Linked DNA regions of Homo sapiens. The protein of the gene in region 1 interacts with the protein of each later gene in a biochemical or structural test. Each region holds a gene or a part of one and is shown in the gene's direction. Other genes may lie near its edges.

Evidence for each region.
Region 2: the proteins of NCAN (region 1) and TNR form a complex in vitro, tested with the Homo sapiens proteins (one study listed by BioGRID).
Region 3: the proteins of NCAN (region 1) and TNC interact in far-western blotting, tested with the Homo sapiens proteins (one study listed by BioGRID).
Region 4: the proteins of NCAN (region 1) and CNTN2 form a complex in vitro, tested with the Homo sapiens proteins (one study listed by BioGRID).

The regions. Positions count from the first base shown.
Region 1 is NC_000019.10:19,221,949-19,228,973, forward strand, and holds part of NCAN (neurocan core protein precursor), read left to right. Parts: intron 1-2,072; coding exon 2,073-2,247; intron 2,248-2,357; coding exon 2,358-2,485; intron 2,486-3,028; coding exon 3,029-3,322; intron 3,323-4,537; coding exon 4,538-5,125; intron 5,126-5,332; coding exon 5,333-6,691; intron 6,692-7,025. UniProt on the Homo sapiens protein: May modulate neuronal adhesion and neurite growth during development by binding to neural cell adhesion molecules (NG-CAM and N-CAM). Chondroitin sulfate proteoglycan; binds to hyaluronic acid.
Region 2 is NC_000001.11:175,390,590-175,397,614, reverse strand, and holds part of TNR (tenascin-R isoform 1 precursor), read left to right. Parts: intron 1-807; coding exon 808-1,071; intron 1,072-3,719; coding exon 3,720-3,835; intron 3,836-6,176; coding exon 6,177-6,327; intron 6,328-7,025. UniProt on the Homo sapiens protein: Neural extracellular matrix (ECM) protein involved in interactions with different cells and matrix components.
Region 3 is NC_000009.12:115,108,148-115,115,172, reverse strand, and holds part of TNC (tenascin isoform 1 precursor), read left to right. Parts: exon of another isoform or gene 1-170; intron 171-3,621; exon of another isoform or gene 3,622-3,744; intron 3,745-7,025. UniProt on the Homo sapiens protein: Extracellular matrix protein implicated in guidance of migrating neurons as well as axons during development, synaptic plasticity as well as neuronal regeneration. Promotes neurite outgrowth from cortical neurons grown on a monolayer of astrocytes.
Region 4 is NC_000001.11:205,038,903-205,046,218, forward strand, and holds the start of CNTN2 (contactin-2 precursor), read left to right. Parts: upstream 1-4,309; 5' UTR 4,310-4,492; intron 4,493-7,316. UniProt on the Homo sapiens protein: In conjunction with another transmembrane protein, CNTNAP2, contributes to the organization of axonal domains at nodes of Ranvier by maintaining voltage-gated potassium channels at the juxtaparanodal region. May be involved in cell adhesion.

The DNA.
Region 1 (7,025 bases):
AGTAGATGCTCAATAAATGACTCAGTGAATGGATTATTGTACAGCAAACATCCCGTGGACTCCTGCTGGGAAACCTGTTTCCCTTAACTTAAATTGACCTTGGGCAAGTCCCTGATTCCTGTCTTGGGGCTTAACCTGCATGCCCCCAAACTGGGAACTGGGGACACAGTGTCTTACCACATAGTTTATGGAGTCAACCAGTCATCCCCTTTCAGAGGCCTCATTTCTGAAAATTGATAAAAGCTAACAACAACAACAACAACAAACTGATTGGTGGTGAGGCAAGTGAATTCCACATCTAGGTAACTTCAATTTCATTCATTCAGCCAAACTCTTTTTGTTGTTGTTTGAGACAGAGTCTCACTCTGTCACCCAGGCTGGAGTTCAGTGGTGTGATCTTGGCTCACTGCACCTCTGCCTCGTGGGTTCAAGCGATTCTCCTGCTTCAGCCTCTGGAGTAGCTGGGATTACAGGTGCACACAACCACACCTGGCTAATTTTTGTATTTTTAGTAGAGACAGGGTTTCACCACATTGGCCAGGCTGGTTTCCAACTCCTAGCCTCAAGTGATCTGCCTGCCTCGGTCTTCCAAAGTGCTGGGATTACAGGCATGAGCTGCTATGCCCGGACATTCAGCCAAACATTTATTGAGCACCTACACTGTACTGGTCCAATGCTGAGGACACAGAGCTCTCAGTTGGATAAGCCAGAGCAAAGTGTTTCATTTCATTGTCTTGTTCAGCCATTTCTTTCATCCCTAAATCAGAATTTGAATCACAGTGAGCCTGTTACCAGGGCTTCACATCCTGGCTTACATGTCACCTCCTCCAGGAAGCCTTCCAGGACCACATTTCCAGGCCAGGCAAGAACCACATTTGGGCCGGGCGCGGTGGCTCATGCCTGTAATCCCAGCACTTTGGGAGGCTGAGGTGGGCGGATCACGAGGTCAGGAGATCAAGACCATCCTGGCTAACATGGTGAAACCCCATCTCTACTAAAAATAGAAAAAAATTAGCTGGGCGTGATGGCAGGCGCCTGTAGTCCCAGCTACTTGGGAGGCTGAGGCAGGAGAATGGTGTGAACCCGGGAGGCGGAGCTTGCAGTGAGCTGAGATCGCGCCACTGCACTGCAGCCTGGCGACAGAGTGAGATTCTGTCTCAAAAAATAAATAAAATAAAATAAATAAAATAAAAAATAAATAAATAAATAAAAAAGAACCACATTTGGTCTCCCATTGCTGCCTGTGCTTCCCTATTAGCGCATGCACTTAATTCCTAAAAGGCAGAAACTCTCTGTCAGCCTTCTCCACACCTCCTGCCACCTCCAGGGCCTAACCCTGGGCATGAAGAGTGCTATCTTTGGAGTCAGATCTCTCTGAATTTGAATTCTGGTTCTGTTTCTTATTTGCTGCGTGGGCCTGGACCTGTCCCTCAACCTTTCTGACCCTAAGTTTCCTCCTCTAGAACAATCAGATTTGTTGTAAGAGTTCAATAAGATAATGCTTATAAATGCTTTTCTTTTTTTTAATGTTTTAGTTTTTTTGAGATGGAGTCTTGTTCTGTCTCCCAGGCTGGAGTGCAGTGGCTCAATCCCGGCTCACCGCAACCTCTGCCTCCTGGGTTCAAGCGATTCTCCTGCCTCAGCCGCCCTAGTAGCTGGGATTACAGACGCATGCCACCATGCCCAGCTATTTTTTGTATTTTTAGTAGAGACAGGGTTTCACCATGTTAGCCAGGCTGGTCTCGAACTCCTGACCTAAAGTGATCTGCCCACCTTGGCCTCCCAAAGTGCTAGGATTACAGAAGTGAGCCAACATGCCTGAACGGCCGTAAACGCTTTTCACATTGTAAATATTTGCTAACTTGTAACCCTTTATGGCCATTGTTATCAGTTTCCTCATCTGTAAAATGGGGGCATATGGATCTTGCTCCCCACCCTCGACCCACACTGTGCCTGGCGCTAGGTCTATTATTATCAGACAGGGGTGGGGAGTCATTCTGCAAGAGGTAGGTCTGTTCTTGAAGATTCCAGCATAAGTCAACTGTCCCCCCATCCTGGATGTTCCCCCACAGGTGTTGTGTTCCACTACCGATCAGCCCGGGACCGCTATGCACTGACCTTCGCTGAGGCCCAGGAGGCCTGCCGTCTCAGCTCAGCCATCATTGCAGCCCCTCGGCATCTACAGGCTGCCTTTGAGGATGGCTTTGACAACTGTGATGCTGGCTGGCTCTCTGACCGCACTGTTCGGTGAGGGGGATACACAGGGCAGGGAGATGAAGACTAGCTCATGGGGAAGGAGGTTCCTTGGGGGCTCCAGGAGCACACATCTGAGAGGGACCCTCCCCTTGTGTTGTCAGGTATCCTATCACCCAGTCCCGTCCTGGTTGCTATGGCGACCGTAGCAGCCTTCCAGGGGTTCGGAGCTATGGGAGGCGCAACCCACAGGAACTCTACGATGTGTATTGCTTTGCCCGGGAGCTGGGGGGTAAGTCTGGGACTGGCAGGACCCGGCCCCTCCGCCTCTCTTTGAGTATCTATTATTCTCCCCAACTCCCATCCTCCGGGGTCCTTATGCAACTCCCCTGTCTTATACCTCCCTAAACCTGCAACCAAGACATGATTCCACTCATTTTCTGAGCTTTCCATGCCTCCCTGAGTCCCCCTCCCTCCCTTTGCCCCCTTCCTCTCTCTGATCCTCTTTCCCTCTCTAATCCCCTGTCCCCTGCCTGCCTCCCTGTCCCTATCCCCTTCCTCCTCTGTGAGCCCCCTTCACCGAGCCCCTCCCTCTCTCTGAAGCCCGACTTGCCCATGGGCCTGAGTTACTCCATTTGTAAAAAGAGGCTTAGCTCTGCATGAGAGGTAAGGACAAGGATGATCCCGGAGCTGGACGCACAGCTGCGGTTGTCACCGCCTCTTCTAACCACCACCCTAACACGTCCAGGTCGGAACTATTTGGAGTTGGACCCACTTCCTGGGCTCCAGGGGAGGGTTCCCCAGCCCCCCTGACCTCCACCCGCCCCTCCCGCAGGCGAGGTCTTCTACGTGGGCCCGGCCCGCCGCCTGACACTGGCCGGCGCGCGTGCACAGTGCCGCCGCCAGGGTGCCGCGCTGGCCTCGGTGGGACAGCTGCACCTGGCCTGGCATGAGGGCCTGGACCAGTGCGACCCGGGCTGGCTGGCCGACGGCAGCGTGCGCTACCCGATCCAGACGCCGCGCCGGCGCTGCGGGGGCCCAGCCCCGGGCGTGCGCACCGTCTACCGCTTCGCTAACCGGACCGGCTTCCCCTCACCCGCCGAGCGCTTCGACGCCTACTGCTTCCGAGGTGCGTGCGTCCCCTGGTGGCCGCGCCCCCAGGGCTTTCACTTTGGCGAAGGCCACGTCCCTGAAAGCCTCGCCAAGCCAAGGGAGAGACACATGGAAGCTCGCTTTGTGATAAGCCACATCCCTGGGTGAGGGCCACGCCCCCGGGTGAAGGCCACACCCGTTACGACAAGTCTTTCCCTAGGAGCCCCGTCCTGGGTAAAGAACAGGGCTCCAGAGGAGGCCACTCTGGTGGGGAGTCACCTTTGCTGGGTGGGCTGTATCTCCTGAGGTCCGGAGGCCCCATAACCTTGAAAGACAAGCCCCTAGGTGGGGCATACTCTACCTAGAGCCACGCCCATACGCAGAAACACCCCCGTGGAAGAGATAATGCCTCAATTGGCCACCTCTGGGCACCACACCGGATGTGGGAGCAGGGATGACACTCGCCCTTGTTGGGGGGCAGTGGGGACAGCTTTGGAAGCTGCAAGCATCAACCCCAAGGAGCCATGTCCTCTAAGTAAGCTGCCCCAGTCCTGGCATGGGCATACCATGCCCACGGGGCACCACCTGTACCAGGGGAGGATCCGTCACCAAGGTTGAGTTGAACCCCTCAACAGGCAGACCCAAGTTCATGAGAGTTGGACACTACCTGAGCTTTGCCCATGAGCCAAATTGTCTTTTTTTCTTTTTTCTTTTGAGACAGAGTCTCACTCTGTCACCCAGGCTGGAGTGCAGTGGTGTGATCTCGGCTCACTGCAACCTCCACCTCCCTTGTTCAAGCAATTCTCCTGCCTCAGCCTTCGGAGTAGCTGGGACTACAGGAATGTGCCACCATGCCCAGCTAATTTTTGTATTTTTAGTAGAGACGGGGTTTCACCATGTTGGCCAGGCTGGTCTTGAACTCCTGACCTCAAGTGATCCACCCACCTTGGCCTCCCAAAGTGCTGGGATTACGGACGTGAGCCACCGCGCCTGGCCCAAATTCTCTTGAGTCCTCACTGCAGCCAGTTGACTCTGACCCTGACAGTGGCTCAGGTGGTCTCCAGCCTGAACAGTGGAGGTGAAAATTTTGCACTTCCCTCTCCCAGGCTGGGGGAATCTCAGAAACTACTTAGGAGAGACAGAGGTACACAGAAGGCTTATGCTGCAGCATGCTGGAAAGTGGGTAGACTTCAAGCAGAACTTCCCAGGCAACCCCTGGGCCTAACACAACCTCTTCTGCTTTCTCCCACAGCTCATCACCCCACGTCACAACATGGAGACCTAGAGACCCCATCCTCTGGGGATGAGGGGGAGATTCTGTCAGCAGAGGGGCCCCCAGTTAGAGAACTGGAGCCCACCCTGGAGGAGGAAGAGGTGGTCACCCCTGACTTCCAGGAGCCTCTGGTGTCCAGTGGGGAAGAAGAAACCCTGATTTTGGAGGAGAAGCAGGAGTCTCAACAGACCCTCAGCCCTACCCCTGGGGACCCCATGCTGGCCTCATGGCCCACTGGGGAAGTGTGGCTAAGCACGGTGGCCCCCAGCCCTAGCGACATGGGGGCAGGCACTGCAGCAAGTTCACACACGGAGGTGGCCCCAACTGACCCTATGCCTAGGAGAAGGGGGCGCTTCAAAGGGTTGAATGGGCGCTACTTCCAGCAGCAGGAACCGGAGCCGGGGCTGCAAGGGGGGATGGAGGCCAGCGCCCAGCCCCCCACCTCAGAGGCTGCAGTGAACCAAATGGAGCCTCCGTTGGCCATGGCAGTCACAGAGATGTTGGGCAGTGGCCAGAGCCGGAGCCCCTGGGCTGATCTGACCAATGAGGTGGATATGCCTGGAGCTGGTGAGTTGCTCTGGGGGAGGCGGGACCTACCTGGGGATCTGGAGGTGAGGGTAGAGAGGTAGCCATGGCTACACTCAGAATGAGGGAGGAAGCTCCAAATCCCAGCTGGGTCCTCTGGCCCCAGAAGCCCCCTCTCCCTTGGGCCTGGAGTCCAACCAAAGGGGCTGCTGAGAGATCATTGTAATGATTGCCTTGATGTTGTTGCAGGTTCTGCTGGTGGCAAGAGCTCCCCAGAGCCCTGGCTGTGGCCCCCTACCATGGTCCCACCCAGCATCTCAGGCCACAGCAGGGCCCCTGTCCTGGAGCTAGAGAAAGCCGAGGGCCCCAGTGCCAGGCCAGCCACCCCAGACCTGTTTTGGTCCCCCTTGGAGGCCACTGTCTCAGCTCCCAGCCCTGCCCCCTGGGAGGCATTCCCTGTGGCCACCTCCCCAGATCTCCCTATGATGGCCATGCTGCGTGGTCCCAAAGAGTGGATGCTACCACACCCCACCCCCATCTCCACCGAGGCCAATAGAGTTGAGGCACATGGTGAGGCCACCGCCACGGCTCCACCCTCCCCTGCTGCAGAGACCAAGGTGTATTCCCTGCCTCTCTCTTTGACCCCAACAGGACAGGGTGGAGAGGCCATGCCCACAACACCTGAGTCCCCCAGGGCAGACTTCAGAGAAACTGGGGAGACCAGCCCTGCTCAGGTCAACAAAGCTGAGCACTCCAGCTCCAGCCCATGGCCTTCTGTAAACAGGAATGTGGCTGTAGGTTTTGTCCCCACTGAGACTGCCACTGAGCCAACGGGCCTCAGGGGTATCCCGGGGTCTGAGTCTGGGGTCTTCGACACAGCAGAAAGCCCCACTTCTGGCTTGCAGGCCACTGTAGATGAGGTGCAGGACCCCTGGCCCTCAGTGTACAGCAAAGGGCTGGATGCAAGTTCCCCATCTGCCCCCCTGGGGAGCCCTGGAGTCTTCTTGGTACCCAAAGTCACCCCAAATTTGGAGCCTTGGGTTGCTACAGATGAAGGACCCACTGTGAATCCCATGGATTCCACAGTCACGCCGGCCCCCAGTGATGCTAGTGGAATTTGGGAACCTGGATCCCAGGTGTTTGAAGAAGCCGAAAGCACCACCTTGAGCCCTCAGGTGGCCCTGGATACAAGCATTGTGACGCCCCTCACGACCCTGGAGCAGGGGGACAAGGTTGGAGTTCCAGCCATGTCTACACTGGGCTCCTCAAGCTCCCAACCCCACCCAGAGCCAGAGGATCAGGTGGAGACCCAGGGAACATCAGGAGCTTCAGTGCCTCCGCATCAGAGCAGTCCCCTAGGGAAACCGGCTGTTCCTCCTGGGACACCGACTGCAGCCAGTGTGGGCGAGTCTGCCTCAGTTTCCTCAGGGGAGCCTACGGTACCGTGGGACCCCTCCAGCACCCTGCTGCCTGTCACCCTGGGCATAGAGGACTTCGAACTGGAGGTCCTGGCAGGGAGCCCGGGTGTAGAGAGCTTCTGGGAGGAGGTGGCAAGTGGAGAGGAGCCAGCCCTGCCAGGGACCCCTATGAATGCAGGTGCGGAGGAGGGTGAGTACAAAGTCCCGGGGCTCTGTCCAGCTCTCCATGGTCAGGGCTTGGGGAGCAGGGGCTGGGGGATCCCAGAGCAGGGAGGAATGGTTGTCCCTGGGGATCTGGAAGCTTTCTAGTGGGGCATGACGCTGGAGGTAGGAGCTTATCAGGTGGAGTTGAATTTCAGAAAGGACATTCCTGGCAGAGGAACGAGCACTGGCAAAGGCCAGGAGATGAAGTAGCGCTTGATCAATTTCGGGCACAGAGCATACATCCCAATGAACAAAGTGTGAGAGTAGTGAGTGGCCGGGCATGGTGCCTCATGCCTGTAATCCCAGCACTTTGGGAGGCT
Region 2 (7,025 bases), on another chromosome or scaffold:
TGGGCTGTTGAGTGTCTTCATCAGGCCGTGGTATCCAGGACTTACTGTTTTGGCTTCTCATAATTTGCAAGATAATCAGGAATGAGTCTTTATTTCCACTTGCCAAATCAGATATTGGCTCCCAGGGTAATCTGATGACGATAACTTATTAAACCACCAAAAATGTTGGCCAGTGGTGTGCTGTTAAATACCTAACAACCTGGCTCCCTAAAGGAAAAAAATTTAAAAGCCCCGTTGTGTAGCATTTGCCAGTTTCCATGATGTAAATACTCTCTCCATGGCCAATTTCAATTACCAACATGACGTCAGTAAACATGGAGCTGGAAACAGATGTGTAGTAGAGTACAATCATAGAATATTTTCACCAGACAGAGCACACATAAATTATCTTAAAGGTACACATAATAGTAAAATGTAGTCAAATAATTTGAGAGTGATAAATTTTGAATATCTATTACCTTTATTTTTAATATAATTTACTTAAGTATTAGGTTATAAAATTGAATCTTTAATAATGGCTGTATTCAACGACAGTCTTGAAACAGTCCTGAAAATTTGACAATCAGCATTTACAAGCCAGTAGGAGCTGGCTCCAGTGCATGTTCATGACCTTATAGAGATTGGGGTACTAAGCACCAAAAAGACAAGAGCCTGCTCACAAAGGAAGTTACAAATCACTTAAAGCCATTGAGCCCAGCAGGACATATAGACATGGCATGGGGGGTGAGATGTGAGGAAGAAAGTTGAGTCCAGGATGGGGAAGGCAATCCTCTGAGCTCATGCTATCTGTGTATTGCCTCCCGGTAGTTGCCCCTCCAGAGGACTTGCGAGTGGCTGGTATCAGCGACAGGTCCATTGAGCTGGAATGGGACGGGCCGATGGCAGTGACGGAATATGTGATCTCTTACCAGCCGACGGCCCTGGGGGGCCTCCAGCTCCAGCAGCGGGTGCCTGGAGATTGGAGTGGTGTCACCATCACGGAGCTGGAGCCAGGTCTCACCTACAACATCAGCGTCTACGCTGTCATTAGCAACATCCTCAGCCTTCCCATCACTGCCAAGGTGGCCACCCGTACGTACCATTTCCCCGTCCTGCTTCATTTTTCTTTTCTCCTACATGAGATCATGGGCATTCATGATAGTAGCGTCTTTTCTTAGTTCTTCAGGGATGCCTGGAATAGTTATTGCCCTTGAGGGGAAGGGCTAGAGATGTGACCCATTTAGAAAGGGTACATCATTAAAAAGGCACTTTCGATTAAGAGAGTTTCCAAATTCAGGCAGCTTTCATAAATTATAGAACCAAAAGGACAAAAAGTACTTTAATTATGGAGTACTGGCTTGTTATAAGCTAGACTCTGACTAGAAGTCAAGGAAAGTGTAAGACATCTACAGACTTTGAATCAGTTAGGGATCCAAAACAAGGAGATATGAACTAGGACCTCTAAGAAGCAAGTGCTAAATGGTGTGTTCTCGACCATAAGTGTATAGCAAAGTGAGAAAAAAATCTTATTTAAAACCACAGCTGACAACATCCCCTTCTCCTGATAGAGAGGTGGCATAATTTCCTCCTGGTCTTTTGTTTAGTGAAATATCTTAATAGTTCATTTTAGTTATAAAAGTTGAAGCCCTAGAGCATAATTTAGAAGGATTCACAGGGAAGAAAGAGAGAGATGGAGACAGAAAGCAATCTAAACTGCTCTCCATAAGAAATGAACAGTTTTTTTTATACATAAAGGGAAACTTCTGTGGGTGTGTACCTATATTTTGTGTATGTTCAAGCATAGAAAAATATAAAAGATTACATAACAATTATTAACACTGACTACATCACAGAGTAGAATAAGAAGGAGATAGGAAATAATTATTATATTTTTCTTTATACCCCTCTGAATTCTTAAATTGATACAATAAGCCTGTTTTAGTTTAGAATTTCAAAAGCCAGGCAGAATAATTTAGGCAAGAGAAGTTCTCATCACCCCAAGTCTACTGCAAAACCTGCATGCACACAAATGCCTCTGTGCCTTATGTGGAAAGTCTTTGGAGAGATCATGAAAAAGGGGCTGTATCTGATTAAAATCTGGGAAGAGAGAAGAGAACATTCAAAGGAGATGAGGTATGAGTGATACAGAGATTTTTAGCAATACCAAGAAAGTGGAACAAGAAGTAACCATGAAAACATAAGCCCTCTAGAATTCAGAAAGCCCCCGGGCCAGTAAATAGGACTTACCACCAGATAAGGGGTAAGAGATCTGAGCCCATTTTGTGTAGGTAGATGGTATTCAGGTAACAAATGCCACGAAAGTTCAGAAAAGGAAAAGGTCAAGGTAGAAAGATTTAGCCTTGAAATCTTCATGGAAGCTCCAGGACTGAATTGACCTTTGAAGGATGCAAGGATAGAGACAGGCAGAGGGGAAGGAATTTAAGAAGTCATCTTGTCCCCTTGCTTTTCAGGTGACAGAAATTCTGCTATAATTTTGGACTCCGCTATGAGAAGAGTGCTGACTCTGTTAATATGCCTATAATTATCTCTGTTTATATTTGACCTTTTTTTAAAAAAAAAATCCTCTGGTGCCTGAGAACTGGTTTTAAATATCTGCAATGATTGTGCAGAGAGGCAGGTCACCATCTGCCGCTTTTCCCACCTTGCTCCGGGATGAGTCACCACCCTAAGTGCCTGGCCTAACTCCCAAGCGTCTCCTCTCTGATCCACATGCATGCACAGTGATGAGGTTTCCATCTCCTGTGGCATTTATTATGCCAATTCAGGGCATTCCCTCAGGCAAGCTCCCAGGTGACAAGGACAAAATCATGTAAACCACCTGACACAACTTCAAGTGGGCTTGCAGTCAGCCCTGCCTTCCAACCAAGAAGCATGAGAACTCTTCCAAACAGGAAGGATGAGAAAATCTGTCCTTTTTCCAATGGGAATAGCCCATGAGAGGCAAAGCTAAAATGGGAGCAGGCTTCCTGGAGAACTGAGAAAAGTCATGCTGTCATATTTCAGGGCTGATAATTGAAACTCCATTAGGACAAGCACACTTCCATCTCACAAAACCTGTGCATGTGTATGTGACTGTGTGGTTGGGGGAGAAGGGGTGGTGGGAGGAAAAGAGGGAGATACATGAAATGAAAAATTCAGACCATCCTAGACTTAGTGATTTGAGCTAAACAAAATACTCTCAATGTGCATCAGATGATCAAGGAAATCACTCTAGTATTAATTCTGAAACTGGTTTGCTCCACAACTTTAGCCAGCTTTCTCTGTGCCTCTCTTTTCCTGTGTGCAAAATGAGAACACTGATAGAAGCCATCATAGTACCTCCCGGGAGTCCTGTAAAGCTTCTAAAGATACTGCTCAAGTCCTCTGAAAAAGGCACTGTACTATATATGATATGCCAAGATCTACCACATTAGTAAGAAAAGAAAAATGATGTCTGCATTTTAATAGTAACCTATTAATGCAATAAAAAGCATTAAAAATTGTTTATATAGATTGTGTTTAAGTTAACTCATGTATTCCATCAACATCGAGCACTAGAGCCACATGGGGTGGGTTGATTCTGCACCTGGGACTCACTGTGTCTGGAGCAAGATTGGGATTGTCCACCAGACACCACCACGCCCATGGCGTGGAGGGAGTTCACCAAGACAAAGCACCAGGCAATGCTGTCTGTCCCAAGGGTTAGCCATGACATTGTCACCTACATTGCTGTGTTCCAGATCTCTCCACTCCTCAAGGGCTACAATTTAAGACGATCACAGAGACCACCGTGGAGGTGCAGTGGGAGCCCTTCTCATTTTCCTTCGATGGGTGGGAAATCAGCTTCATTCCAAAGGTAACACTCACCTGTTACACTGCCAAACAGACTTATTTGGAATATTTGTACCTTTAGCTTGGAATCAGGGGCAGCAAGGAAAGTGCTACCCAATATCTCTCTCCATGCCATTAAAGACACAAAATGGCATGTTGTGGGTGTCTGGGATATAGAACATTTCTGTGACAAATATGTGGTAACGACCTGCTGACAAGAGTAGCCCTGAGCATGGCACCCTGGCCTTGCAGAACAGAGGATGTGGGAAGCAGCCACCAGCTCCAGCTCTCTGCTGAGATAACTCTGGGGTCTGATGAGCCATAGTTTTGGTGAGCATGAAAACCAGACCCTGAAAAAATTGAGGCTTCTCTTTAGGACATAAGAAAAGCCAGGCTGAATCCATCACATAATCAGCCAAAAGCTTCATTCTGTGCAGACAGATGCACCACAGAAAAGTCAGCTTGCATGGCATCAATCCCTAAAGGTTACAGACATAAAACAAAACACCTTGGCTCTCCTGGATTATTCATAATACATTTGTATCCTATTAATTTAGCAACTTTTTTATTAGTCTATGACTTTTAAAGTATCCTAAGATTCCTTTCTACTCTCTAAAGCAGTATTTTATTTATTTTCTTAATTCTAAAACTAACTTTTCCGAATTGCCACAGGTGTATGCCTGGCTCTAAATTTCCAGAATTTGTTGACCCTACCAATGTCCTCCCTAACTGTACCACTCATGAGGATATAAAGTTCAATTATACTCCTTCCCTCTGTCTTTATTCTTCAACATCAAAGAACATTTTTTAGCCATTCATCAGACTTAATGACAAATGACACATTTTTGGCTAACAAGACCATGATTTCACCATTCTTTTACTTCAAAATTCTTAGAGCTGTGAACTGTTGGAGTTACAAAAGACCTTCAAGTTCACAGGTACGACCCCTCATTTTACATCTAGTTTAGTTTAATTTATAGACACTACGATTCAGAAAACTTGAAGGACATCATACAGCTAGTTGGTGACAGGCTTAAAACGAGTACCTGGGTCCCCACCACCTATCCCGGGGCTCTGTTCACTAAATCTGTATGCCCCATTTTCTTATTTACAGTCATATTATAGTCACATCACAGCAAGGTAAATAAATCTAAACAGACATCTATACAAATGTGTCCTATTTGAGTTAAAATGATAAATAAAATGTGGCAATTGAGTTACATAACAATTGAAACGATCATGTCAATTGGAATGGAACATTGCTACCAATGTTTTTCAGGAAGAAAAATTACGCCAGGTTCTCCTGTTACCTATACCCAATATGTAAAACTCTAATTAAAAGAGAGGCTGACCAGGGAATGCCAAGGTCAAATGCATGGCCACATGGTTTAATAACTGTTGTGATCTGTAGGTTGAGGCCACTGGGGAGCATTCATCACACTGATTTATAAGAGTATGACTGTAAATTACATATAAGGCACCCTGGGTACCATAAATAGAGGCCAAAGAATAGGGGAGAATGGCAGTGCCCTCCAAAAGAGGCCCTCTTGTCTCCTCCATTTCTAAGGACACTCATAGAAAGTATATGGAGGGAAAGAGAGAGAGGGAACGATAAGATAGAAAGATAGATAATAAATCCTAGATTCAATTTCGTCAAGTTACTCTTTCTCATTCCCTCTCCCTCTTGTCTCCTTCTTCTCTTCTTTGTATTATCTTTTTCCAAGCTTCCTTTTTCCTTTCTTTGTACTTCATATGTGGTTGTGTCACTGAGTCCTAATTCATCTGGGTGAAGGGGAAACAAGACATCGACAGATTCACACCGAATGTAGCACCATGAGAAACTCCAGATATAGCAAAATATTAGCTCTGGCTCATAAACAATTATCTCATAGCAATGTCTTAGTTTGAAATGTGTTGTGTGTGTATATAAAGATGTTTACACACAAACACACATGACTATCCTCTCCTAAATAGCCGGGGGCATGTTCATTACGATAAATGCCAAAAACCTCTGATGAATGTTAACCGCAACCATCAAACATTTGATCTTTGGCAAGAGCCAATCTGCACCACCTCATCACTAATTTTTATTGGCAAACTCAGCAAACTCAGGAGTGGCCAAAGAAATGTTCTTAAAAATTGATCCTCCATTTGCCAAATCCTCATAGGGTGGTGTCATTCTTATGGAGTCTATGGGGAGTTATTTCTGGCCCCAGATACTCAGCTGTCAGCATGGAGGAAAGAGACATCGCCCCCATTTTAAATTCACAATCCACAATTAGTATTCCACACCTTTATCTTTCTCTCATCAGATTTCTCTCCCAGTGACTTTTCTCTTTTGCTCTCTGCTTCTCCCCACTGTCCAGAACAATGAAGGGGGAGTGATTGCTCAGGTCCCCAGCGATGTTACGTCCTTTAACCAGACAGGACTAAAGCCTGGGGAGGAATACATTGTCAATGTGGTGGCTCTGAAAGAACAGGCCCGCAGCCCCCCTACCTCGGCCAGCGTCTCCACAGGTGAGTGCCTCCAACCCTTCTCCCTAGAGCTGCCTACTAGGTCACTTGGAAAAGAACCACAGAATTGCCCAAGGAGTGGAGAGACAACAGAGGTGCTAGAATTTCTCCTAGAGCTGGGACAATTCTGGTACCTGGCAATGGAGCTACTCTACCAGATGCTTAGCTCATCATCTTCCCTATTACTCATCCTTACAAATACTGTCATCTGGGAGAGTGTTTCATGGAGACAATTCTTTTTTAATATTTCCATTGTATTTATGCTGATCTTACTCATGAAGAACACTCATTTGTCAGCCTCTGGTGTCAATGATCTTTGGAAGCAGCAAGAGCTGACTCATTCTTACCTATGATGATATTTGGAGAAAGTCATCTGAACCTTCCCAAACTTCAATTTATTTTACAAGATAAGCAAGAATAATTTATGATAAACAAGAATACCTTCTTCATTAAGTTAATATGAGGATGGGATTAGATAAAGCACACAAAGCAATCAGCTCTGTGCTGATGAGAGTGAGTGCTCAATACTTGGTATACGCACATATACTCAGAACATACTCAGAAGTGAAAGTGGTAGGAAACAAGTCATTCAAAAATAAGTAGGTATGGGTTGGGTCACTGTTCAAGGTGATGGCTTAAGTCTATTATTATTTCATCCCACAGATCACCTCATTCAAGATTATTATATTTCCAGGATTGAT
Region 3 (7,025 bases), on another chromosome or scaffold:
CCTTAATCCTACCCTTTCTAATGCTAACAATAAATTAAGAGCACATATTCTCTCCTCTCTCTCTAGATTTCTATAGACACCTAGCTGTGCTTTCTTACAAGAAAACATATCCACTGGACCAAAGCGCAGCCCCCTTCATGCTGAAGCCACTTCAGTTTGAAACGTAAAAAGTAGGTTGCAAACATTTAGTTGGCTCGAAATATATGTCCTTTTGTGATGGTAAAACACACAAACACAAAGTTAATAGTGTCACATATGTAATAGGAGGGTTTGCCAATGGTTTCTCATCTCATTCTCACTCAGACACTACAAATTATAAATTACTAGCTCAATTTTAAAGAAATCGACACTCAAGGAAGTTAGGTGACTCATCTGAGGTCTTTCCGTAATTGAGGGGCAGAGCTGGCTTTGACCCAAGCTTTCTAACTAATACCCCACTGTTCTTTCTGCTGTGCTATATTGCCTTCTGAAGTCAGGCTGTGCTGACCAAGTTTAGAACCTTAAATGGTGTCTTTCAGTGAATGATCAAGATGGTGGAGAAGCCCCCAGCTGGCATTGGTGCCTATTGATTTTACAGAATAGCCCTGCATGTATCATTTTTCATGGTTCTCAGCAAAGGTCAGCTCTCAATGGTGCAACTCTCTGCCTGGAAACAGGAAAGTTCAAATTTCAGCCCTGGAAGAGAGAAGAATGAAACTAGAGGTAGCAGTCAGGTCACTCCTGCTGATTTTCATCTCAGAAAAGTAGGCACACAGGTGAGCCAAACATCTGGTTTTAAAAGGGCTGATTGGTAGGTAAAGTGAAATCGGCCTTGGGGCCATGAATCCCAGGACAGCTTGGAAATGGTTGTAGGCTCCGAGCCACAAATTGAGCCACAAATTCAGCGGAAGCCTCAGAGAGGAAGATTATGATTCAAATACCTCTCACTCTGAGAAGATTGTAGGGAATCCCCTTGAATCTTATCCCGGGCCAGTTTGAACACCTTCAACATGTGGGAAACATTAGATGAAGGCTCCCTTCCAAGGAGGAAAACCCCCCTCAAAGTGTGACATGACCAGCCTCCTGCAAACCCCAGGCCATAATTCCATTCAATGTAAAAGACAGAGATGGTGAACTTACCTACCTTCGGGGGCTATACATGCTTTGTGACTTCTCTGTAAAGGAGAAAAGTCTGCAAACCAACCTGATTCTAATCCTGGTGGCCAGACATTTTTCAGTTATGCCCTTAAGCCTAAACTCCTTTCCCTCCACCTTGTCTCACATTTCCAGCTTCTCTTCCACTTTAGAAACAACCCTGTCACTATCATTACTCTCTTTGGCCCTTCATCATGGAATAAAAGCAAAATGCCCAAGTCAAAAGCAGATCGCGAACGGAAAATCCCTTCCATGTGCATTTTTAGTCTATCTGTGAATGGAGATTTTAAAAATATGTATTTCATGCCACGTCGTCTCAGAATTTTGAAGTTTCCTGAAGTTCATAGGTCCTTCATGATATAGCCATGGTAACTTAAATAGCTTTGTTTGGTCCTTTAACCCTCCTCAAATACCCTATACCAAGAGCCAGAGATATATCATGAGTTCTGAACATAGATAGCTTTGCTTCAGAATTGACCGTTGTTCACCTCTAACCCTAAAGCTGGCTGCTGCTAACTTCGACAAGAATGTGTCTGAAATGTTCTCCTAGGAGAATCCTAGGGGATAATCGTAATAGCTAATATTTACTGAGGACTCTATAGGCATCATGCCATTTAGTCAACCATAGCTTCTAGTAAGTCTTATCACCCACCCTATTCAAATATGCACAATGTAAGGCTGAAAACGTTTAAGTAGCTTACCCAATACCATGCAGAAAGTACTTGGTGGAGTTAAAAATCAAACCCAGTTCCCAGTCCTGAGAGGCTAGTTATAACCATTTCAGTAAGGAAGTCATGCTCAGCTCCCTAATTCTATTCATCTTCTGACAAGAGAGAGGGCTAGACACAGCAAAGCTAAGAAAGACACAAAAGCTTGTCTTTTTGGCCCTGGTGTTCTTTGACAGACTGGTTAATTTTGCTATCTCCAGCTTGCTCCTTCAGGCTTCACCTCTTGAAAAAAACTGTAATTAAATGATTAGCATGTGACCCATAATGTAATACGTTTTCTCTACTAGACTTTAAGCTACATGAGGGCAAAGCCCGATCCACATCACATCCCTGCAACCAGCCTGAGACCTGAAGCATAGACACACATAAGCAAGTGCTGCCCAAGGGAAGCCATGAGTGCCCTGCAGGCTGCCTGGAATCCCCCTGCTCCAGGTTCCAACTGAGCTCTGCACGTCCCCCACTGTCTGTGTCATAATTACCCCTATGATTGCCTTCCCTGCCACACTGGACTGTACACCACTGAGGTCAAGAATGTTAGGGAGGCGGGAGCTTTGTCTGCTGGAGTTCATTTTCCCCAAAAACGGACCCACCATGGGCAGACGCACCATTAGCACAGTCCCCAAAGGAGATGCCCAGGACTGTGGGATGGTCTTGTGAAGGTCGATGCACAGATATTGCAGAGGAATGCTTTAACTTCTAGGTAGGTTACTATTTTCTTAAATCTCCTTAGGGAATACAGAATTTTCAAACTAAAAGGGCTTACGGGCAGCCTCTAAGCCAGAATCTTGCAGACTGGATTTTAAAAAGAATTTAAAAAGATTTGGGGGCTGCTGTGGAGAGACAGGGAGGCCAAGCAGGGGATTCCCCTCAACCTTATTTCAATGAAAGCCCCTCCACTTATCTATTTTGTACACTGAGCCTCCTCATGAAATTTTATTTGATGAAAGGGCTCTGTGCAGAAAAAACAGAATGTTTTTGTAAATTGCTGGCCTAGGTTAGCATACCTCATTTTAAAGAGGGTGAAACTGAGACATAGAGAAGGGAAAGATCTTTCTAAGATCTTCCGCCAGTTGGCAACAGGGTCAGGTTGGAATCCTAGGTCTTCTGACTCTTGCTCTTGGAAGCCAGGGACAATCTTAAAAGTTTCAGAATTAAGACATTCTTTTAGAAAAGAAAAATGAGCAGAGTCTTATTCTCTCAACAGCCTTAACTCACACGGACCGAGCCAAGGATGACTAGTATCTCCGTATTCATTATCTATTACTGCATACCAAATTACTTTAAATCAACACTCATTTATTATCTCATGGTTTCTAGAGGTCTAAGCACAGCTTAGTTGGATTTTCTGCCTCATGGTCTCTCATGAGGTTATTGTCTGTGTTGGACAGGGTTGATGTCTCATCTAAAGGCTGAATTGGGGGATGATTAGCTTCCAAGCTTGTTGATGTGGTTGTTGGCTGGACTCCATTTCTTGAGAGATATTGAACTGAGGGCCTCAGTTCCTTCAAAGCTGTTGGTCCAAGGCTACCCTCAGTTCCTTGCCACATGGGCTTCTCCAACAAGGCCATTTACATTAACAAAGCCAATGAGAAAGAGAGTTACCGGGCATGGTCGCTCACACCTCTTAATCCCAGCACTTTGGGAGCCCGAGGCGGGTGGATCACTTGAGGTTAGGAGTTCGAGACCAGCCTGGCCAATATGCTGAAACCCCGTATCTACTAAAAATACAAAAAAATTAGCCTGGCATGGTGGTGGGCACCTGTAATCCCAGCTACTCAGGAAGCTGAAGCAGGAGAATCACTTGAACTTGGGAGTCGTAGGTTGCAGTGAGCCAAGATCGAGCCATTCCACTCCAGCCTGTGCAACAAGAGCGAGATTCCATCTCAAAAAAAAAAAAAAAAAAAAAAAAAAGAGAGAGAGAGAGAAAGTCTATAAGCAAGAGGCACATCACAATCCTGTGTAACCTAATCATGGAAGGGATATTCCATCACCTTAGTCATATTCTGTTTGTTAGAAGAAAGTCACTGGGCCATCCCACACTCAAGGGGAGGTAATTGCACACGTATGAGAATGCCGGGAGGCAGTATCAATGGGGCCACCTTAGAGTCTGCCTGCCACAGCCTCCAGCACTCCAGTGTCACCAATTTCTGGCAACCTCTTATCAATGACAAGTTCACTCAACCCTTCAGTACCCTCACTGATGAGTAATAAAAAAATTGATCGAGACCATGGTGAAACCCCGTCTCTACTAAAAATACAAAAAATTAGCTGGGTGTGGTGGCGGGCACCTGTAGTCCCAGCTACTCAGGAGGCTGAGGCAGGAGACTGGCGTGAACCTGGGAGGCGGAGCTTGCAGTTAGCCGAGATCACACCACTGCACTCCAGCCTGGGCAACACAGTGAGACTCTGTCTCAAAAAAAAAAAAAAAAAAATTCTGGCAGCCACTAAAGTGGACTAGTTTTTATTTAACATCCTCCCATGTATATAGTGGAGCCAAGTGTTTTGATTAGTTGTTTTAACTCATTGGTTAGCCATAATTTCTCTTGAATTTCACCCCAGGGAGGGGCCTTTCACGGCAATGATTCCAAATGTATTTTATTCTAAAGCAAGACAGTCAGTGTGACCAAAACTAAAACTCATCCATTGTTCCTCCCTCAATCTATTCCTCTCAGCAGATATAATGAATAGTAACATCTTCGATTAATTCTTTTTTCTTTACTAACCCCACACACAAAATGTTGTAGTCTCTACTGCCTTGACAAGCAAATCTGTTCACTGCCTCCCCACTTTCTTGATCACCACCCCCTGCCCCACCTCCATTACCCCTGTAGTTCAGATCTTAGCATCTCACAGATGGGCCACTGCAACAGCTTTCCCACTGGCCCCCAGCAACCCAGCCTTCCCCTTCTTCAACCTGAGACATAGAGGTTAACATTCCTGGGCCTCAAGATTTCCAAATGCTTTTCTTCTGCCTGCAAAAAAGTCCAGATATTCTGACATTCAAGATTCTCCATGATCTTGCTTCTGGTCTCTAAACAGATCCTGTACTTCAGCTGTCATTCATACTGTTCACATCAACCCTTTTATTCTTTTTATATCCTTGTAAATGCCATTCCCTCGTGCCTAGAATATCCTTTTTTATGTTTTTCACCTATTCATATTTTTCTCTCAAAATTCAGTTCAGGCACCACTTCCTCCAGGTAAATTAGATGCCCTTTTACTGTCATCTCATTCTACCTATGTTTCTTTTTTTAAATCTATCATCTCCTTTATCATCCTGGAATGGCCTGTCTGCCCCTCTTGACAATATAGTTCCTAAAAGAAAAAATTGTATCTGGTTTATCTGAAACCTAGCACAACTGGAATAAAGTTAATCTTTAGCAATTAATAGGAGTCCTTGCTGTGTCCCAGATTTGGACATCCTCTTCCTTAGCAGTTTGCTCAGAAAGCCCAGAGCTTGAAGTTGTTTTCACGCTTCACCCACTGGCTTGCAAGTATGCAGTGTGATGACACAACATGTGATAGGAGGAAACCATCCCAGCCCTAGGACAGGAAACTGTCTCAGGACACAGACCTCAAGGAATGTGTTTGCTTTCAGAGGTGGCCTTCAGGATAAAAACACAAATTGCTTTGGATTTGGAAAAACCAGTACCAAGGACAGAGGAGTCCTGTCTGGGGATTTGAGGCTGAGTCACAAGAGATAGCTGAAAATCTGGAGGTTATAACAAAGATTAGTCAACAACTAATAGGAGGAAAGAACAGGCTCAAGGGTGGGATGGAGACAAAGAGCTCTCTATCTTAGGACATGGAGAAGCTCACAGCCCACAAGAAGAAATGAATAATGGTTAAGAGTATGACTTTGGCATAAGAATCCTCTGGGTTTGAGAGGTATTTGCTTGCTATGTGATCTTGGCCAAGTTACTTAGCTTCTTTAAGCTAATTTCTTCTTATCCATATTAAAAGCAAAGTAGTAGCACCTAGTTTAAAGTTTATTGTGATGATTAAATGATGTAGTTCATGAACACTGCTTAGCACAGAAACTGGCATTCAATATAAATGTTTTGTTGTTGTCATTGTTTTGTTACCTGTTGATCAAATAGTTCTTGATGATAAGATCCCACTAGAGAAGCAGTTCCCAAAAGTGTGTCATGTGGAAAAGCATTCTCATGGGAATCACCTAAAAAAGGGTTTTGTGGCCAAATGAGTTTGGGAAACACTTGGTACTCTTCTGTTCTTGGAAATGCACAGCTCATATGTCCATTCAATACATAGTTTTAGGGCTGGTGATACAATAGAAAGCAATACAGTCAAGATCCTTTTATTCATGGTGTTTACATTATGGTGGCATATCTTAGTTTGTACAAGCTGCTACAACAAAATACCATAAACTGAGTGACTTACAAACAACAGAAATTACTTTCTCACAGTTCTGGAGGCTGGGAAGTCCAAGATCAAGATGGCACCTTATATGTCCTCACATGGCAGAAGACATAAGGCAGCTCTATGGGGTCTCTTTTAATAAGGGCACAAATTCTATTTATGAAGCCTCTGCCCTCATGATCTAAGTACCTCCCAAAGACTCTGCCAACTAATATTGTCACACTGGTGATTATGTTCCAATGTGTGGATTTTGAGGGAACACAAACATTCAGACCATAGCAGGGGGAAGGCAGACAATAAAAAGGAATCACATAAACTTATAGCACAATTTCAGGTAGTGATATTTGCTAAGAAGAAAGACAAAACAAGGTAAGGGCATAAACAATGACTGGTGGTGAGAGGAGTGCTCTTTTAGATGGGGTGAGAGGTGAATGTGCCATTGTGCAGATGTCTGAATGAAATGAGAGAAGGAGCTCTGTAGGCAATGGCTAGGAGTTTGAATTTCATTCTGAGTGTGGTTAGAAGCCAATGGATGGTTCAGGGAAGTAGAGTGCATCATCTGAGATATCTTGCTGTAATTAATCTGTTCAACTTTCGTTAGCCCAGTATCTCCAAACATACCTGACCATAGGACATCTACCTAAAAACATCTTGCAACGTAGTCTGGGAAATTCTTCACTGGAGCACAAGGCTTCATAGATTTTAAAGGGACTGCAAATTTGCTCTTGTTCATCTAGATCTGCACTAAAAATCCAAACATACTGCTTGGGACAAAATAGGCAT
Region 4 (7,316 bases), on another chromosome or scaffold:
GCAAATGCAGACAGGGCATTGAGATCTTCCTTCCAGCACCCCTGCTAGGTCAACTTGGCTTCTCCAGGCATTACACAAATCATGGCCTTCCCAGGCCCCACATCTTGGCTCCTGCCACACCACATGCCCCCATGCCAGAAACACATTCCCCACCTCCTCTCTGTCCATCCAGGCTCAATTCAAGATGCACCCACCCACCCCCACTGAAAGCTTCACCCACATCCTACCTCCCTCTCTCCTCATCCTCTGAATGGTTACTATAGCTACTCTCCTTCATTCATTCACCCAGTCAACAAATATTTATTGAGTCTCCACCATGCACCAGGCACTGTGCTAAACAGGAGGGTGGGGGACTGGGAGAATACGGACTGATGAGATAATCCCTACCTTTTGGACTGCATAGCTGAGGGAATGGCCATCAGTATTTGATATGGCACTTTGCAATTCAAAGTGCTTTTAAAAACCATTATGTTTAATTCACATATCCTCACTACCATCCTAGATAGGAGTAGGATCATTCCTATTTTACTGGTGAAGAAATGGATTATCTGGGCGATTAAGTGTCATTCTGTTACTTGCCCAGAGTCATCCAGGTAGGAGTGACAGAGCTGGGACAGAGTCCAGTTCTCTTGACTACAAATCCAGAGCCACCCCAACCACTTGCAGCCCTTACTGCTCTGCCTCATATCCTTGTTTTACAGATGAGGGAGGCTAAATCCCAAAAGGGAAATACTGACATTTATTGAGCACCTGCTGTGCTAGCTACTTCACGTGTAACTCAACACTCACATCAACTCAGTGAGGTATGTGTCTTCATCCCCATATTCTGGGTGAAGAGGTATGTGGCTTGCCCATGGCCTCACATCTCCTCAGTAGCAGGACTGGGTGTCAAACGGGTCTGTCTGCAGAGCTTTTCCTTATGGCCATATCAGTTTTCCCCAGAGCTGTGGATGGACAGTCCTGTTACCACTGTCACACTGCTTCCAAAAAGGTCACTGGCACTTTGAAGACCGCATCCCCTGGCTCTTGGATCCCTACATTCCAGGCAGAGGAGCTGCTCCATAAATACATGGCCTCCTGGGAAAAGGGTCTGGGCAAAGATGCTGGTGGCGGGAGAGGCCAGGAAAGGAGAGGTGAGGCGGGGGAGTGGTGAGGAAAGAGACAGCAAAGCTGCAGCATCCTGGGGCCATGGCAGGGTCTCATCTCCTCCCCACTTGTCCCCAGGGATGGGGCCTAGAGGTCCCTTCTTGATCGGTTAGAGACCCACTGGATTCCATTGCTATCAATCTTGTGTGGCTACAGTAGGAAGAAGCAGATGGTCTGGGCAGGGTTGGGTGGCCCTCAAAATGCTTTCTGATCCCCACCCACCACCACCAAGGGAGCACCACATGTTTGCGGACAAATTTATAAGCCATTTGACTAGCCACCTGATTATCTTCACTGGCCCTTTCTTGCCCTGTTTGAAAGTCTGTGGGGACTCAACTTTGAGATGTGGAGTCCCAGCTCTGGACAACATGGAGTCATATTGATCAGCCACAGAAAGGAGAGGTGGCCCTTATGGTCAGCTGCACTGAAGATTGTGGGCTCTGGATGTCACCAAAGAAGAAGAAACTGTTCTGCCCCCTATTTTGCCCACCTCAAAAGAACAGACAGTAGGTAGCTGGAGTCCATGGCACGGTGGCTAAGCCAGGATGCTGGAGGCCGATCCCAGGCCTCACTCTGTCATCTAGGCTGGAGTGCAGTGGCACGATCACAGCTCACTGCAGGCTTAACCTCCCAGGCTCAGGTGATCTTTCTACCTCAGCCTCCTAGGTAGCTGGGACTACAGGTGTGCACTGCCACACTGGCTAATTTTTGTGTGTTTTTTGTTGAGACGGGGTTTCGCCACGTTGCCCAGGGTTCCACTTGTTTACTATTTCTTTTGAGCAAGTTCCTTACTCTTACTGAGCAACATCTGAAAAGTGAGGATAATAACAACATGGACCTCTTGCGCAAGTAATTCAGGTAAAGCATTTAGCACAGCTCCCGGCATGTGGGAGGCATTCAAAACAGATATTATTTCTGTTATTATCAAGCTAATGGGCCCCACAAGCAAAACTCAGCCTGCACCCCCAAATGCCCACCCCACTCTCTCCTCAGGAACAGGAGCATCTCAGAGACTGGGAGTGCAGATCCCCCTAATCTCCCCAAACTCATTCATACTAGACTTCACTGAGAGCTTCAGACAAGTGAGAAGATGAGACTTTGGGAACTGTCTCCCCATCCAAGTCTAGGCTTGGCAAATGTTCTTGTTTTCACTTATTGTGTCTGCCAGAGTCCACATGGAGCATGCTGGTTGCATTGAGATCTGAGAGTCTTTAAGACCCAAGTCACCTGTGCTAACGACCCTCCCCAGAGACCCAGCTCCCACCACAGGGCAGCAGCTGTCCTAAAATAGAGTCACAAAGACAGCTGTCTCCGTCTAAAGCAATCCTTGCAAGCATTTCCAGACTGTTGGTTCCTGGGCCAGCCTATTTCCTGGCCCGTCAGCCCCCTGCAGCAGACATAGCATCCTTTTCTTGGCAAGGACTTGTTCCTGCCGTTTTCTGCTAGGAGAGAACTTGCAGAGCCTCTCTTTGGAGCCCAGGCTGACTTGAATGGTGCCAAAGAGCAAGGTTCACCTCAGGAGCTCAGAGCCAATGTGCCAGCCCTCAGACATACAGATAGGCAAGGACAGTGTGGGCAGGGGAAGGAAGGGAAAGATATCCTGGCAAGGGGTTGATGTGTCTGTCTATATAACAGCATTCAACATTATTTAAGAAACATCATTAGCAAAATCCAAGTCCTCCCCATCAGGAACAAAGAAGACTATCTCTCAAGTTGGGCAAGCCCTTTGGAGGGGCTCAGAAGGAAAGGAGGGGAGCGCATGTGGGACCTGGGCAGACATTCCAGCCTTGGAGGCTGAGCAGCAGAACCTCCCCGACTCCTTCTCCTTTTCCAGACCCTCTCATTCTGGCCCAGGTCCCCAGGACCTCCTCCACTCAGGGAGACATGGAGCCATGATCCAGGCTTGACAGGTATAGCCATTTAAAACTGGGAGGCTGGCCTGGCCCTGCCAGCTGTTGCAGCATCTGGACTGCTCACCGGTCTTGCCTGTGCAAGCTGGACAGCAGGCAGATCAGAGGGGGGTGAGACAACAGTGACAGCCTGACAGGGCCGACTGGTGCCGCAGATGGCTGGTCCCTCCGCCTCCGGGCCACAGCCTTCCTGGGCACTCCCCCACGTGACCGGAGCAGGGCAGGAGAAAGGCATCGCTGACAAGGGTGAGCACTTAGAATCTCAGAGCTGGCAGGACTGTGTCCATCTTTAATCCCTTCAGGTACCAGCGAGGCTCAGAGAGGGCAGGGCACCTAGCCAAGCACACACAGCCAGTCGGTTGTGGAGCCCAGAGTATGCTTCAGACACCCAGACCCCTAATCCAGGGAGCTTTTCATGACATCACACTGCTGGTTGCTTAAAAATGGGATTGGATCCAAACGTACTGATGCGTAAAAGTGTCCAAGATCAGTTACACAGTTAAAAGTCTTTGGCCAATCCTACTGTTTTATGTAATCACATTTGTGTGAAATAACCCTACTAACCCATGTAATTGTATACACGAAAATAATAAACCTGGGGGCATGTACTTAGATTTATTAAGAGTAGTGGTTGAGGGACTTTCACTATGTATTTTTAAATGTCCTCTAATATTTAGATATTTTGACAAAAAGCTCAAACTACTTTTGAACAAGGGAAACAATAAAGAGGAACATGGGGTGGACCGGGCAACAGAGACAGCCCCTCCCTGCCACTTGCCCCACACAGCAAGCTGGGATTTCTGATTTGGATCTCTTCCTCGGATAGGGGATTTCTGGGGAAACCAGGAGTTTTGGCTCCATGGGTCTCCAGGGTTTGAGGAGTAAGAGCCACTTTCTTTTCCCTCTTCACCCCGCCCCTCTCCTGCCCCTTCAGCCCTGGGCAGGGGGACTAGAAGTGGGGCTGGGCAGGATCGGGAGGGCAGGCGGGCCAGACAGCGCCCCGCGGCCTGTCCATGAGCGGCCCATGCATTATGGAAGACGCGCGCTGGGCTCGCTCCCTGGTCCTTAAATGACAGCAAATGAGGTAAAGCCAGGAGGGTGGGGACGGAAGTGGGGTGGGAGGGGGGCAGAAGGAAGCCATCTCCAGGGCCCCCGAGCGTTGGCTGAGGACCAGAGCCAGCCAGTGAGCGGAGCCTGGGAGAGGGAGGAGCACATCTTGATGCAGAGATGCTGCAGTGGCTCCGGGCGCGCTCACACACACGCGCCCTCACCCGCCACCGCCGCCGCGGCCGCCGCCGCACCCGGACAGCGAGCGGCTGAGGCCGCCAGGGCCCAAAGGACAGCGGCCCAGACAGGGGCTGGCGGCCCGGCCGGCCCCGGCTCACCGACTCGGGCAGCATCCACCTGCCCCAGCCAACACCCTTCTCTCGCCCCAGGTAGGTGCCAACCGCTTTTGTCTCCTCCAACCCAGGGACTTCCCTGCGTGCTGTTATGGGCCGGGGCTCCCGGCTCAGTTCCTGTAAATATCCCCCTTGTAACTTGGGAGGGAACAGGGACAGGAACACTGGCAGGCTGGGGCCGTTCTGACTTCTCCCCTCAGCCCCAGGGTGGGTGCTGGGGCTCCCCTCCGCCCTGTCTACGTGGGCGGCATCCCGCAGGGCTCTCTCAGGCCGAGCCTGGCCGAAAAGCTGGACCCCAGGAGTGTGTCCAGGAATTCCAGTTGGCCAGCGGGCAGTGGCAGCTGCCTGTGGAGAGGGCAGTTTCTCCTGGGCCGGCCCTGGGCACCCGGTCCAGGACAGGACCAGTCCATACAGCCAGGCCCTGGGCCCTGGCCTGCCCCAGAAGTCCCTGCATGGAATTGAGCCGGAGTCCCCAGTTTTGAGGTCACCCAGGGTCTACCTCTGCAGGGTGACCTCTTTGCAAAGTCTTGCTTCAGCTGGATGGAGAGGGGGGCTGTGGAAGAGAGAGGGGAGAGTGGAGCACAAGTTTGGGCAAGGGCCTGTCCAGGAACTGGGACTCGGGGAGGAGAGTCCTGAGGCCAGTCACATCCCAAAGGGCGAGAGGCTGGGGCTACCGGGCTGAAATTCCTTTCCTTCCCTTCCCCCTCCCAACCTTAGCTTCTCCTCAAATCCCTCCCCCCCATCCTCACTGGTGGGAGGGAAGAATTTGCACAAAGTTTGGCTTTCCAGTAAGGAAAGGGGCTGGGGCCAGAATGGTATGGGGAAGGGAAGGGGCAGAGCTGGGGAGTTCTGGAAAGAGAGGGCAATCCTTCTGCCCAGCACCGTGGGGCTTACATAATGGGCTGGAGGTGGGGGGCAGCCCCAGCCAGTGAGTGTCCAGAGCTGAATCCTGTCACCTTCTCCAAGAGGGTCTCTCAGGTCTGGGAAGCAGCGGGGCATGGAGAAGGCAGTGCCTATGGAAGGGGAGAATCCTGCTGCTACTTGGGGATGGAGACGGGCACCCTCTAGCCCCAGACCCCTGGGGGTTGAGCCTGTGTCCTGGGGGGGGGGGTCCAGTGAGGCCAGGAGGGAGTGGGGTTGTGCATGCCATGGCCCCAGCCCTGGAGAAAGGTGGGTTTCAGCATCTTTTCCCTCTGCTCAGAAGGAGCTGGGAGGAGGAACAGCCCAAGAAACCCAGTGCACAGGTGATGTTCTGGTCTCGTCTGGGCAACAGTTTCGGCCTCCTCTCCCAACCGTCTGGCCAAAGACGCCTCAGCTCACTTAGCCTCCGAGTCTCTCTACCTCCTGGTCCCACTCAGAGGGGCCGGATGAGCCACTGGAGATCGAGTGCAGCAAAAGGTGGGCCACCTGTGGGAGAGGCTGCTGTGATCGCACCTGGACAGGGAGATGGCCTGGAGGTCACAACAGGTGCCCTCACTCCTGGCCTTGGGAGAAGGGAGCTCTCCCCTTAAAGACAGCAGCATCCAAGCCCCTCCCCAGGGTGCCCACCAGTTAACCCCTTTCTAGCCAAGCTGCAGAACCATGGACAGGGCTTTTGCCACAAGGTCAGAGTCCTTCCTAATCTCCCGTGGAAGTCCTCAGCGAATAAGAGGGAGGCAGGAGGTGAGACAGACAGGAAAGGGCCCCTGACCTGATGATGTCAAAGTCACCCAAGGTCCACCTGCCTCACAGGTGCAGAGACCACTGTGCTCACACCATGAGCGGTGAGGGAAGCAGAGGCACACTCCTTATGCAGATGAGTGCCTCAGACTCCAGGAGTCTGCTCTCATTCCCGGCTCTTTCTCTCTTACTCTCCTCCCTTCCTCTACTCCTTCTTTCCTCGCACTCCCTTCTCTCATCGCGTGTACTCCACCGGCTTCAGCCCTCAGCCTCCCGCCGCCACCATTTCCCCTGCCAGATTTCACTCCTTATGCAACTCCATTCCAGCACCTTCTCTGCCAGCAGTTGTTCAAATAGAGACACATGTGGGATGGGCCTCCGAGGAATTGTGCTTAACGGGGTGATTGCACATCTCGTCTCTGGCTGACCAAACTTACTCCTTAGGAGCATGTACATAGACAGGTGTACCCCAAGGCATCCTTTCTGCCTCTAAAGTCACCAGGGAAGCAACGCATTTGGGGTGGTTTGGAGGATGCATGGTGCCCTCTTCAGAAACCTCCTTGAGCCAAACGTTGGTGAGAAAGCGTATTTCAAAGACAATCTCTAAGCCTGAGTGTGGGTGGTATTTGTATTTTTGGAGGGATTCCTAGGGCAGAACCAGGGGGTTGGAGAAGAGGTGATTGATATGCAGGGGAGGAAGAACCAGAGCAAAGAATATGCCAGGGAAGCCAGAGGGACTTAAGTTAGACTGCAGGAGACACTTCCTGGCTAGAAGAGTGAGCCATGAGGAGGTGGGGCAGTCTCCTTTCAGATGACTCTAAGGATGGTGTGGAGAACTGGGGTCTGGTCCAAGGTTAGAGAGTCCTGCCTAGAGGCAAAGGTTGGGCTGGCTGACCCTGTAAATTTCTTCCAACTTCTAGTAATCCTCTTTCAAATGGTAAAAGGTGGATGTGACTCAGGAATCCATAAGAAGGCAGACATCCTTTTCATCCCCTCATGCATGCTGGCCACCCCCTCATCCTTCAGGACTACAACCCCAATCTAAACAAACCACCCAGAGGCTGTTGCTAACCTGGAACATTTATGGGAGTTTCTGTGGGCTCCGTATCCTGACGGTAACCATCCTAGAGTAAGTCCTTTCTTAGTTTGATGATTCCTTGCTACAAGATTAGCCCATGTTTCTTTGTTTACCAAAGAGAAT